Linked DNA regions of Homo sapiens: region 1 is linked to region 2. Evidence: fine-mapped expression QTL. Tissue or cell type: lung. Region 2 holds a variant in brackets; the other region holds the start of a gene. All regions are shown on one strand. Distances are between the middles of the regions.

Region 1 (5,147 bases), 38 kb before region 2:
CCAGCCCGGAGGTTGTGGGGTGACCCTGGAGCCACCAGTTCCCTTCCTCACGCCCTCCCCAGCCCCACACAGCCTCAGGGTGTGGCCCCGCCCAAGCCCTGCTGTCCCAGGCTTCCTGATGCTCCTGTGTGCATGCTGACTGGGATGGTTTGTTATGTCTCTGCCCCCTGAAGAAACAGGGAATGCTTGTCTTTTTTATGAGTCGGAACCTCTCTCTGTCACCCAGGCTGGAGTGCAATGGTGCAATCCTAGCTCACTGCAACCTCGACCTCCCAGGCTCAAGTGATCCTCCCAGGCTCAAGTGATCCTCCCACCTTGGCCTCCCAAAACACTGGGATTACAGGCCTGAGCCGCTGTGCCACCCTGCTTTTGTCTTCAAGCCACAGGTGGTTAATGTTTTCCATGGTTCAATTCCTCTGGAGCTATTAGGACCTTTTTGCAATATTCTCATCCTACCTGTACTGTCATTTCCTTCATGTTTCTCTCTAAATTGGCAGTTTAAATAAAGCATGCTGATTGAACACCAGACTCCCAAAGGAGATGTTGTCTGGCTTTTGCTGCCTTTGTGGGTGGGGTGAATGCAAGAGGGTCCCAGGAGACTGGGAGGACTCACCTGCCAGTAGGAGAAGGGCCAGGGTCACTCTCTCCATGTCACAGTTCGAGGGGCAGGGCTGCAGGGGGAGAGGCACTGGGGCGGGGGTCTGCAGCCCACGGATCTGCTCCAGGCTCACAGCTCAATTGGTCAGCGAGAGGAGGCAGGGGCGGGGGCAGGCAGAGCCCCATGGTGAAAGTAGGTGTACAAACCCCAAGGATACACTTGCTTGTGGGGAGATCTTGGGAAAGTAACTACTTTCTGTCTTCCCATCTAGAGATGGTGGTGGCCTGGGGGAGTTGTGTGGATTGAGTAAGCACAAGCTAAGAGCTCAAAACTGTGCCTGCACAGAGTAAGTGCTGTAGAAGGCGTTGTTAAAATCCATGCGACAAACCCACCCCCTACTCCTCCCCATGAGGAAGATACTATTATTGTCTCTATTTCAGAGAAGAAAAAAAAAAATGGAGCTTAGAGAGGTGTAATCAGATGCCCAGGGTCAGGTGGCTGCTATTCTAAGTCAGGGTCTGGAGCCTGCCTTCCTAACCCCACACAAAGGGCATTGTTATCAGGCCCCAGGCTATTGTTCCCAAAGGTCTGGGCCTGGGGTGGCCAGAGTCCAGCACCCTCAGTCTGAATTCCCAGAGAGCCTCCACAAAAGCAAGGGTGTGGAGGAGGGAGGGAGTGCTGAGTCCTGGGATGAGATGACTGCAGCAGCCAGGACCTCCCCTGCCAGCCCTGGCAGGGGACCCTACTCCAGCAGACCCAGATTCTGCTCTCAGAGTATAGACCTCCTGTGGTATGACATTTCCCCCTCAGGTTGGAAGTAGCCAGGACCCCATTTACTTGTCCTTAGGGAGGCTGAGTCTTTGAGCGCAGGCCCCCTCCCAGCCCTCTGCATATTGTTAGCCTAGTGTGGTCAAGTTTTCAATACTGAAGCCATTGTCATCATCTGCTGTACCCAGCTCTGGCCTCCTGATGAGATCACAGATCCAGGGCCAGCTGTCTGGGCTGGGTCCCTTCTTAGCAACTTACCAACTGTGTGACTCTGCAGGTTCCTCACTGCTCCTTCACCAGTGTCCTGTAAAAGGAGGATCATCAGAATAGTAGCAACCTCATAAGGTTATAGCGATGGAATTACGTGAACTACTATTTGTCAAGCCTAAGAACTATGCCTAGCACACAGTAAGCACTAAAAACCTGTTACAATAAATACATCCATAGGCCGGGCGCAGTGGCTCACACCTATAATCCCAGCACTTTGGGAGGCTGAGGCGGGTGGATCACCTGAGGTCAGGAGTTCAAGATCAGCCTGGCCAACATGGCAAAACCCCATCTATACTAAAAATACAAAAATTAGCTGAGTGTGGTGACAGGCGCCTGTATTCCCAGCTACTTGGGAAGCTGAGGCAGGAGAATCACTTAAACCTGGAAGGTGGAGGTTGCAGTGAGCCGAGATCCTGGCACTGCACTCCAGCCTGGGCAACAGAGGGAGACTCCATCTCAAAATAAATAAATAAATACATCCATAAATAAACACATGGTCCTTCTGCAGTGGGAGGGAGGCACTGGAGGGAGAGACTGTTAGGCACTGCTTCTGAACATCGGTTCTTGGGCTAGGAGCAGTCTCCAAAGCTGGCTTCCCCCAGCCTTCACTGGTCTCTCTACCTTCACCAACCTGGAGTTCCTGGAATACGAGGGTCTCAACTCTAGGTCACATTTTTTATTTTATTATTATTATTATTACTATTTTTTTTTTTTTTGAGACAGGGTCTTGCTCTGTTACCCAGGATGGAGAGCAGTGGCGTGATCTCGGCTCACTGCAGCCTTGAACTCTCTTGGCTCAGGTGATCTCCTCACCTGAGTATCTCAAGCAGTTGGGACCAGAGGTATACCCCACCAGCTCATATATTCTTTAGCCAAGGGCTGGCTTCTGTTTCCTCCAACCCCCAACCCACCATCCATATGATAGTGGGTGCAAAGCAGGAGGCCTTCAAGCGGCTGCTGCAGCCATATCTGTCCTCAGACCCCTCAACAGGCTCCTCATTACTCAGAATTCTTGGGCACCCACCCCCTTCACCCAGCAGCCCCAAAGTGGACGCCTGCTCACCTGCGAGGTCACCTTGGCGAGGGCTCACCTGAGCTGGCAGCGCAGAGAACGGATCTGAGGAGGCTGCTGGGCACGTGGGTCGGCTCTTTAAACCCTGCAGCCACGCCCAGGGCTCCATGACGCAGGCTGGAGGGAACTGGTCAGGCTCCCTGCCACACCCAGGGCTGTTGGGGAGGGGCGGGCTGGGCCGAAGACCCTCTTTTGGCTTCTTTTTTTTTTTTTTTTTTTTTTTTTTTTCTTTTTTTGAGATGGAGTCTCACTCTGTCACCCGGGCTGGAGTGCAGTGATGCAATCTCAGCTCACTGCAACCTCTGCCTCCTGGGTTCAAGCAATTCCCCTGCCTCAGGCTCCCGAGTAGCTGGGACTACAGGTGCACGCCACCACACCTGGCTAATTTTTTTTGTATTTTAGTAGAGATGGGGTTTCAATGTGTTGCCCAGGCTGGTCTCCAACTCCTGAGCTCAGGCAATCCGCCCACCTCGGCCTCCCAAAGTGCTAGGATTACAAGCGTGAGCCACCGCGCCCAGCCTTTCTTTTGGCTTCTTTAGCTCACCCAGATCCTAAAAGAGGGACCTGGAGGGTGCTGGGCAGGGTGTTCCTGGGCTCTTGTGCCAGCTTTGGGGGTTCTGGGACCTCTGTGTGGGGGTGTCCTGGGGACCACGGAGGATACCAGGAGCCAGGCACTGACCTTGAGGCTCCCTGTGCTCAGCAGTGCCATGCCACTGCTGTCACTTGGGCTGGGTGTCTACTGAAGGGAGGCTGGTGGCCGATGGGCACCCCCGGGGGTGGCTCACCCTCTGACAGGGCCCTGACACCCACTTAGCCTCCCCCACAGGTGAGGGATGGGGCCAGGAGGAGGATAGACGCCCCCGGCTGAGGAGTGGGCTGCCTCCCTCTGCAGACCTCAGGCCTGCCTTGTTGCTGGGGGCCAAAGTCACCCCACACAGGCGTGTGGAGGACCCCAGGCCTCCCTAGTCTGCTGTTACCCCTCCTTAATTCTTTTCCAAATGAGGGACACTTGTCCCTGTCCAGAAGGTAAGGGGGGATGGCTGACAAGGGATGGGGGTCTCTGGGCTGGGAGGGCTGGGGAGGGCAATGATGGTTTAGTTGGTTTGTTTGTTTATTTATATATTTATTTTTGAGCTGGAATTTCGCTCTGTCGCCCAAGCTGGAGTGCAGTGGCTCGATCTTGGCACACCACAACCTCCACCTCCCAGGTTCAAGCAATTCTGTCTCAGCCTCCCGAGTAGCTGGGATTACCGGCACACACCACTGTGCCCAGCTAATTTTTGTATTTTTAGTAGAGATGGGATTTCGCTATGTTGAGCAGGCTGGTCTCGAGCTCCTGACCTCAGGCGATCCACTGCCTCGGCCTCCCAAAATGCTGGGATTACAGGTGTGAGACACTATGTCTGGCCCAGACATACTTTTAAGTGGAAAAAAAGTATAGGGCAGTCTGAATAGGATGCTGTCACTTGTGTAAAAATATAAAATATTGGTTGGGAAAGGCGGCTCACGCCTGTAACCCCAGCACTTTGGGAGGCTGAGGTGGGCCTGTGTCTGTGTGCATGCTGCATGGGGCTTAGCACAGAGGAGGCGTCCCGGTGTTTCCTCAGCCAGCTGTTTACTTGAGTTCATTGCATATATGACTGCACCTAGCCCTCACAGAAGTCTTTGGAGGTTCATACTCTCATTAGCCTGTCAATCTACAATAGTCAAACAGGTTAGATTTTAGTTTAAAGGAGTTTATTTAAGTGTAAAGGTTAAGGATGGCCTGCTCAGGAAGTAAGGATGGTAAAGAATGGAAGTCATGGCTGGGGGCGGTGGCTCACGGTTGTGATCCCAGCACTTTGGGAGGCTGAGGAGGGCAGAACATGAGATCAGGAGTTCAAGACCAGCCTGGCCAACAAGGTGAAACCCCGTCTCTACTAAAAATACAAAAATTAGCCGGGCGTGGTGGCGCGCTCCTGTAGTCCCAGCTACTTGGGAAACTGAGGCAGGAGAATCGCTTGAACCTGGGAGGCGGAGGTTGCAGTAAGCTGAGATCGTGCCACCGCACTCCAGCCTCAGCGACAGAGCGAGACTCCATCTTAAAAAAGAAAAAAAGAGAAGAATGGAAGTCAGAGTTTTAAAGTCTCGGTGGAGTGTGGGGGTTAAATCCTGACACTCTGGGAGGCCAAGGTGGGCAGATCACTTGAGCCCAGGAGTTTGAGACCAGTCTGGGCAACATAGCGAGACCCCATCTCTACAAAAAAAAATAGAACAAACAGCCTGGCGTGGTGGCACACACCTATACTCCAGCAGAGGTGGGAGGATCGCTTCAGCATGGGAGGTCAAGGCTGCTGTGAGCCCAGAAAGCACCACTGCACTCCAGCCTGGGTGACAGAGGGAGACCTGTCTCACAATAAATACGTAAAATGTAGAAGTTTGGGATCATTTATTTTATTT
Region 2 (5,147 bases):
AACATTTCAAGTGCTGCTAGACACAGAATCCATCTTGGCATTGATACCCAGGGACCCAAAGCCTTATTGTGGTCCCCTGGTAGTGTTGGGGCTATATGAGAGTTAGGCAATAGAGTTTTGACCCAGGCCCAACTCACTGTAGGTCCACTGCATTCAGGAATCCACCCAGAGGTCCCTTTCCCAGGTTCTATGCATGATTCAATAGACGTATCTGGTGTTTTGAGAGCAGCCACATTGATTTCTTTTTTTTCTTTTCTTTTTTTTTTAGACGGAGTTTCATACTTGTTGCCCAGGCTGGAGTGCAATGGCACAATCTTGGCTCACCACAAACTCTGCCTCCCAGATTCAAGTGAGCTCTGTCACCCACGCTAGAGTGCAGTGGCATGATCGTAGCGTACTGCAACCTCCACCTCCTGGGCGCAAGAAATGCTCCCACCTCAGCCTCCTGAGTAGCTGGGACTACAGGTGTGCACCACCACGCCCGGCTACACCACGCCTGGTCTTGAATTCCTGGGCTCAAGGAGTCCTCTTGCCTCAGGCTACCAAAGTGCTGGGATTATAGGTGACAGCCACCGCACTCGGCCAAAATTGGAAGAATATATATATATATATACCCGGTGAAATAATCACCACAATCAAAAAAATGACTACATCCATCACTGAAAACTTTCCTTATGCCCTTCTGTGATCCTTTTCTCCCTCCCCCAAGGACCCCTTGGAGAGGCAAGGCAATGCCACAGGCAAGCACTGATCTGCTTTCTGTTTGATTCATTTGCGATTTCTAGAATTTTATATAGATGGAATCATACAATGTGTACTCTTTTGTCTGGCTTCTTTCCATTAGCATAATTATTTTGAGATTTATCTGTAGTGATGTGAATATCAATAGTTTATTATTATTTTTTCTTTTTTTCTTTTTTAGACAGGGTCTTGCTCTGTCACCCAGGTTGGAGTGCAGTTCATTCTTTTAAAATTGCTAAACAGTATTCCATAGCATGGATGTGCCATAATTTATGCATTCTTCTTTTTTTTTTTTTTTTGCCCCCGAGATGGAGTCTTGCTCTGTTGCCCAGTGGCTCTATCTCAGCTCACTGCAACCTCCGCCTCCCGGGTTTAATCGATACTCCTGCCTCAGCCTCCCGAGTAGCTGGGATTACAGGCACATGCCACCATGTGCCGCTAATTTTTGTATTTTTAGTAGAGGTGGAGTTTCACCATGTTGGCCAGACTGGTCTTGAACTCCTGACCTCATGATCCGCCCACCTCAGCCTCCCAAAGTGCTGGGACTACAGGGATGAGCCACTGTGCCTGGCTGCATTCTTCTGTTGATGGACACTTGGGTTGTTTCCAGTTTCTAACTATTACCAATAAAGTGTCTATACATATTACTGTGCAGGTCTTGTGTGGACTATGTTTTCATGAAACCTGGGTAAATCCCTACGAGTGAAGTGACTGAGTCATATGGCAGGTTTAACTTTTTTATTTTTGGAAACAGGGTCTTGCAGGCCAGGCGCGTGGCTCACGCCTGTAATCCCAGCACTTTGGGAGGCTGAGGTGGGTGGATCACCTGAGGTCAAGAGTTCAAGACTAGCCTGCCAACATGGTGAAACCCCATCTCTACTAAAATACAAAAATTAGCACATTGTGGTGGCACGTACCTGTAATCCTAGTTACTTGGGAGGCTGAGACAGGAGAATCGCTTGAACCTGGGAGGTGGAAGTTGCAGTGAGTGGAGATTGTGCCACTGCACTCCAGCCTGGTTGACAGAGCCTGGGTGACATGGCAAAACAGGGTCTCGCCATGTTACCCAGGCTAGTCTCTAACTCCTGGGCTGGGCTCAAGCCATCCACCCTCCTCCACCTCCCAAAGCCCAAAGTATTAGGTGTGAGCCACCATCCCTGGCTGTATGCTTAACTTCATAAGAACCTGCCAAACTGTCTTCCGAAATGGTTGTGCCATTTCACATTCCCACCAGCAGTGCATGAATGTCCCAGTTTCTTCACACCCTCACTACCACTTGCCATGGTGAGTCTCTTTGGTTGTAGCCATCCTAGTGGGTGTGTCGCGGTGTCTCTTCATGGTTTCAATGAGTGTTTCCCTAATGACTAATGATGTTGAGCATCTTTTCCTGTGCTTATTTGCCATCAGCTTATCTTCTTTGCTGAGGTGATTCTCCAAATCTTTTATCCATTTTATTTATTTATTTATTTATTTTTGAGACAGAGTCTTGCTTTGTCACCCAGGCTGGAGTGCATCGTCGCAATCTCAGCTCACTGCAACCTCTGCCTCCCGGGTTCAAGCAATTCTCCTGCCTCAGCTTCCCAAGTAGCTGGGATCACAGTTGCGTGCCACCACACCCGGTTAATTTTTGTATTTTTAGTAGAGATGGGGTTTCACCATGTTGGTCAGGCTGGTCTCGAACTCCTGACCTTGTGATCTGCCTGCCTTGGCATCCCAAAGTGCTGGGATTACAGGCGTGAGCCACCGTGCCCGGCCTACCCATTTTTTTTTAAAAAAAAAACAGAAACAAAAATGCTACAGCGCAAGTGGCTGTTCACAGCCTTCCCTTTCCTTTGTGTCATGAGGAGGTGCGAGTGTTTGGCTGCTCCTTATGGGGCCTTTGCTGTGGGAGTGGGCAGAGATGGGAAGAGCCCAGGCTGATCCATGTTAGAACAGACCTGGGAGTTTTTGCCGGAAATCCAGCAGTCCTGTTGGAGGGGATGGGAGGGGAGAGGAAGAGAAGGCTGGAAGCTTAGGGGGAGAGAAGCAGATGGGGAGAGGGGAGGAGATACTGGAGGATCTGCTTTAAAGCGCAGCTTTGGTCGGGGGTGGGAAGGACGACATCAGGAAGTTTTGCTTTGCATCATGAGATGGGAGCCTACTCTCCACAGTCCTCCCAAGAAAACTTGAAGCAAAGCTCTCCATGACTGCTCAGGGTTTTGGACCTGCGTTACTTTTGGCTATGTCACTACATTGAGATGACATGGAGAAGGGTGGGGGTGGTTTTATCTGGGTGTTACATAAACACTGAGCAGTTGTAGCTTTATTTGTGGTGCTGGCCTTCATGGACCACTGCCTGAGATAGCAACAGAAGTACAGCGGTGGAGAGGAGTGG[G/A]TGGAGAAGCATTTTAAAAATAATATATGTTAAGAATTTTAAAATTTGGGCCAGGTGCAGTGGCTCATGCCTGTAATCCCAGCACTTTGGTAGGCCAAGGCTGGCGGATCACTTGAGGTCAGGAGTTCAAGACCGGCCTGGCCAACATGTTGAAACCCCATCTCTACTAAAAATACAAAAATTAGCCGGGTGTGGTGGTGCGTGCCTGTAATCCCAGCTACATGGGATGCTGAGACAGAAGAATTGCTTGAACCTGGGAGGGAGAGGTTGCAGTAAGCCGAGATCAGGCTATTGCACTCCAACCTGGGTGACAGAGTGAGACTCTGTCTCAAAAAAAAAAAGAGGATAAATTTCGAAATGATTATAAACCCACAGGAAGTTGCAAAAAAAAAAAAAAGTTCGAGGAAGTTTCGTGTACGTTTCACCCAGTTTCCCCCAATGATAACATCTTCTCTAACTATGGTTTAATATCAAAGCCAGGACGCTGATGTTGATACAGTCCTCAGAGCTTGTTTGTACTTCATCAGTGTCACATGCACTCACTTGTGTGTGTTGTATGTATGCGTGTGAATAGTTCAATGCAATTTTATCACATGTGTAGGTTCGTGTAACCAGCACCACAATCAAGATACAGAATAATTATCACCACAGAAGTCCTTCATGCTAACCCTTTACCTATGTCCGCCCCCTCCTCCTCTGCCCCTAAACCCTGGCAACTGCTAATCTGATTTTCATCTGTCTATTTTGTCATTTCAAAAATGTTATATAAATGGAATCACACAGTATATGGCCTTTTGAACTGGCTCTTTTTCACTGAGCGTAATTTGCTTGAGATCCATCCAAGTTGTTGAATATATCAATTGTCGGTTCCTTTTTATTGCTGAGTAGTATTACATGGTATGGGGGTATCAAAGTTTCTTTAACCATTCACCCATTGAAGAGCATTTGTGTTTTTTCCAGTTTTTGGCAATTGTGAATAATGCTGCTGTGGACATTTGTGGCCAGGTGTTGGTGTGAACAGTTTTCATTTCTCTGTGATAAATGTGAGTGTGGTTTCTGGGTTTTATGGCCAGTATATATTTAGTTTTATAAGAGACTACCGGCTGGGCATGGTGGCTCACACCTGTAATCCCAGCACTTTGGGAGGCTGAAGCGGGAGGATCACCTGAGTTCAGGAGTTCAAGACCAGCCTGGCTAACATGGTAAAACCCCGTTTCTACTAAAAATACAAAAAATTAGCCAGGCATGATGGTGCGCACCTGTAATCCCAGCTACTCAGGAGGCTGAGGCAGGAGAATTGCTTGAACCCAGGAGGCGGAGGTTGCAGTGAGCCGAGATCTCACCATTGCACTCCAGCCTGGGCAACAAGAGCAAAACTCCATCTTAAAAAAAAAAAAAAAGAAAGAAAAAAAGAAAGAAACTACCAAGCTATTTTCCAGGGTGCCTGTACCATTTTACATTATTTTTTTTGTGAGATGGAGTCTTGCTCTGTTGCCCAGGATGGAGTGCAGTGGCCTGATCTTGGCTCACTGCAACCACCACCTCCCAGGTTCAAGCCATTCTCCTGCCTCAGACTCCTGAGTAGCTGGGATTACAGGTGCCCGCCACCACTCCTGGCTAATTTTTAAATATTTTTAGTAGAGATAGGGTTTCATCATGTTGGCCAGGCTGGTCTCAAACTCCTGACCTCAAGTAATCCACCTGCCTCTGTCTCCCAAAATGCTGGGATTACAGGCATGAGCCACCGTGCCTGGCCACATTCCTAACAGTAATGTGTGGTCTAGTTTTTCTGCATCCTCACTATCATTTGGTGTTATCACTATTTTTTTTTCTTTCTTTTTTTTTTTTTTTGAGGCAGGGTTTTGCTGTGTCACCCAGGCTGGAGTGCAGTGGCATAATCTCGGCTCAATGCAGCCTCGATCTCCTGGGCTCAAGCGATCCTCCCACCTCAGTCTCCCAAATAGCTGGGACTACAGGTGTGAGCCATCATGCCCAGCTAATTATTTTTTGTAGAGATTGGGTCTCACTATGT

What was found. PIP is the estimated chance that this variant, and not a neighbour inherited with it, causes the effect.
Region 1: it holds the start of FXYD4, and the variant in region 2 is fine-mapped to the expression of FXYD4 in lung (TOPMed, PIP above 0.99).

What each region holds. Positions count from the first base shown.
Region 1 is chr10:43,369,250-43,374,396 of GRCh38, reverse strand. It overlaps FXYD4 (FXYD domain containing ion transport regulator 4), which reads right to left and starts at 2,761. Exons shown (of 9, transcript NM_173160.3): 1 at 2,700-2,761; 2 at 1,625-1,670; 3 at 614-882. The coding sequence starts at 650.
Region 2 is chr10:43,330,752-43,335,898 of GRCh38, reverse strand. The region is part of intron 2 of LOC105378271 (a long non-coding RNA gene); the gene reads right to left. LOC124902414 (a long non-coding RNA gene) reads left to right here. Exons shown (of 2, transcript XR_007062130.1): 2 at 269-1,385. Among named protein-coding and RNA genes, the nearest start is that of LINC02633, 10 kb to the right of the region's middle. The variant G/A (reference allele first, on the strand shown) is at 3,116.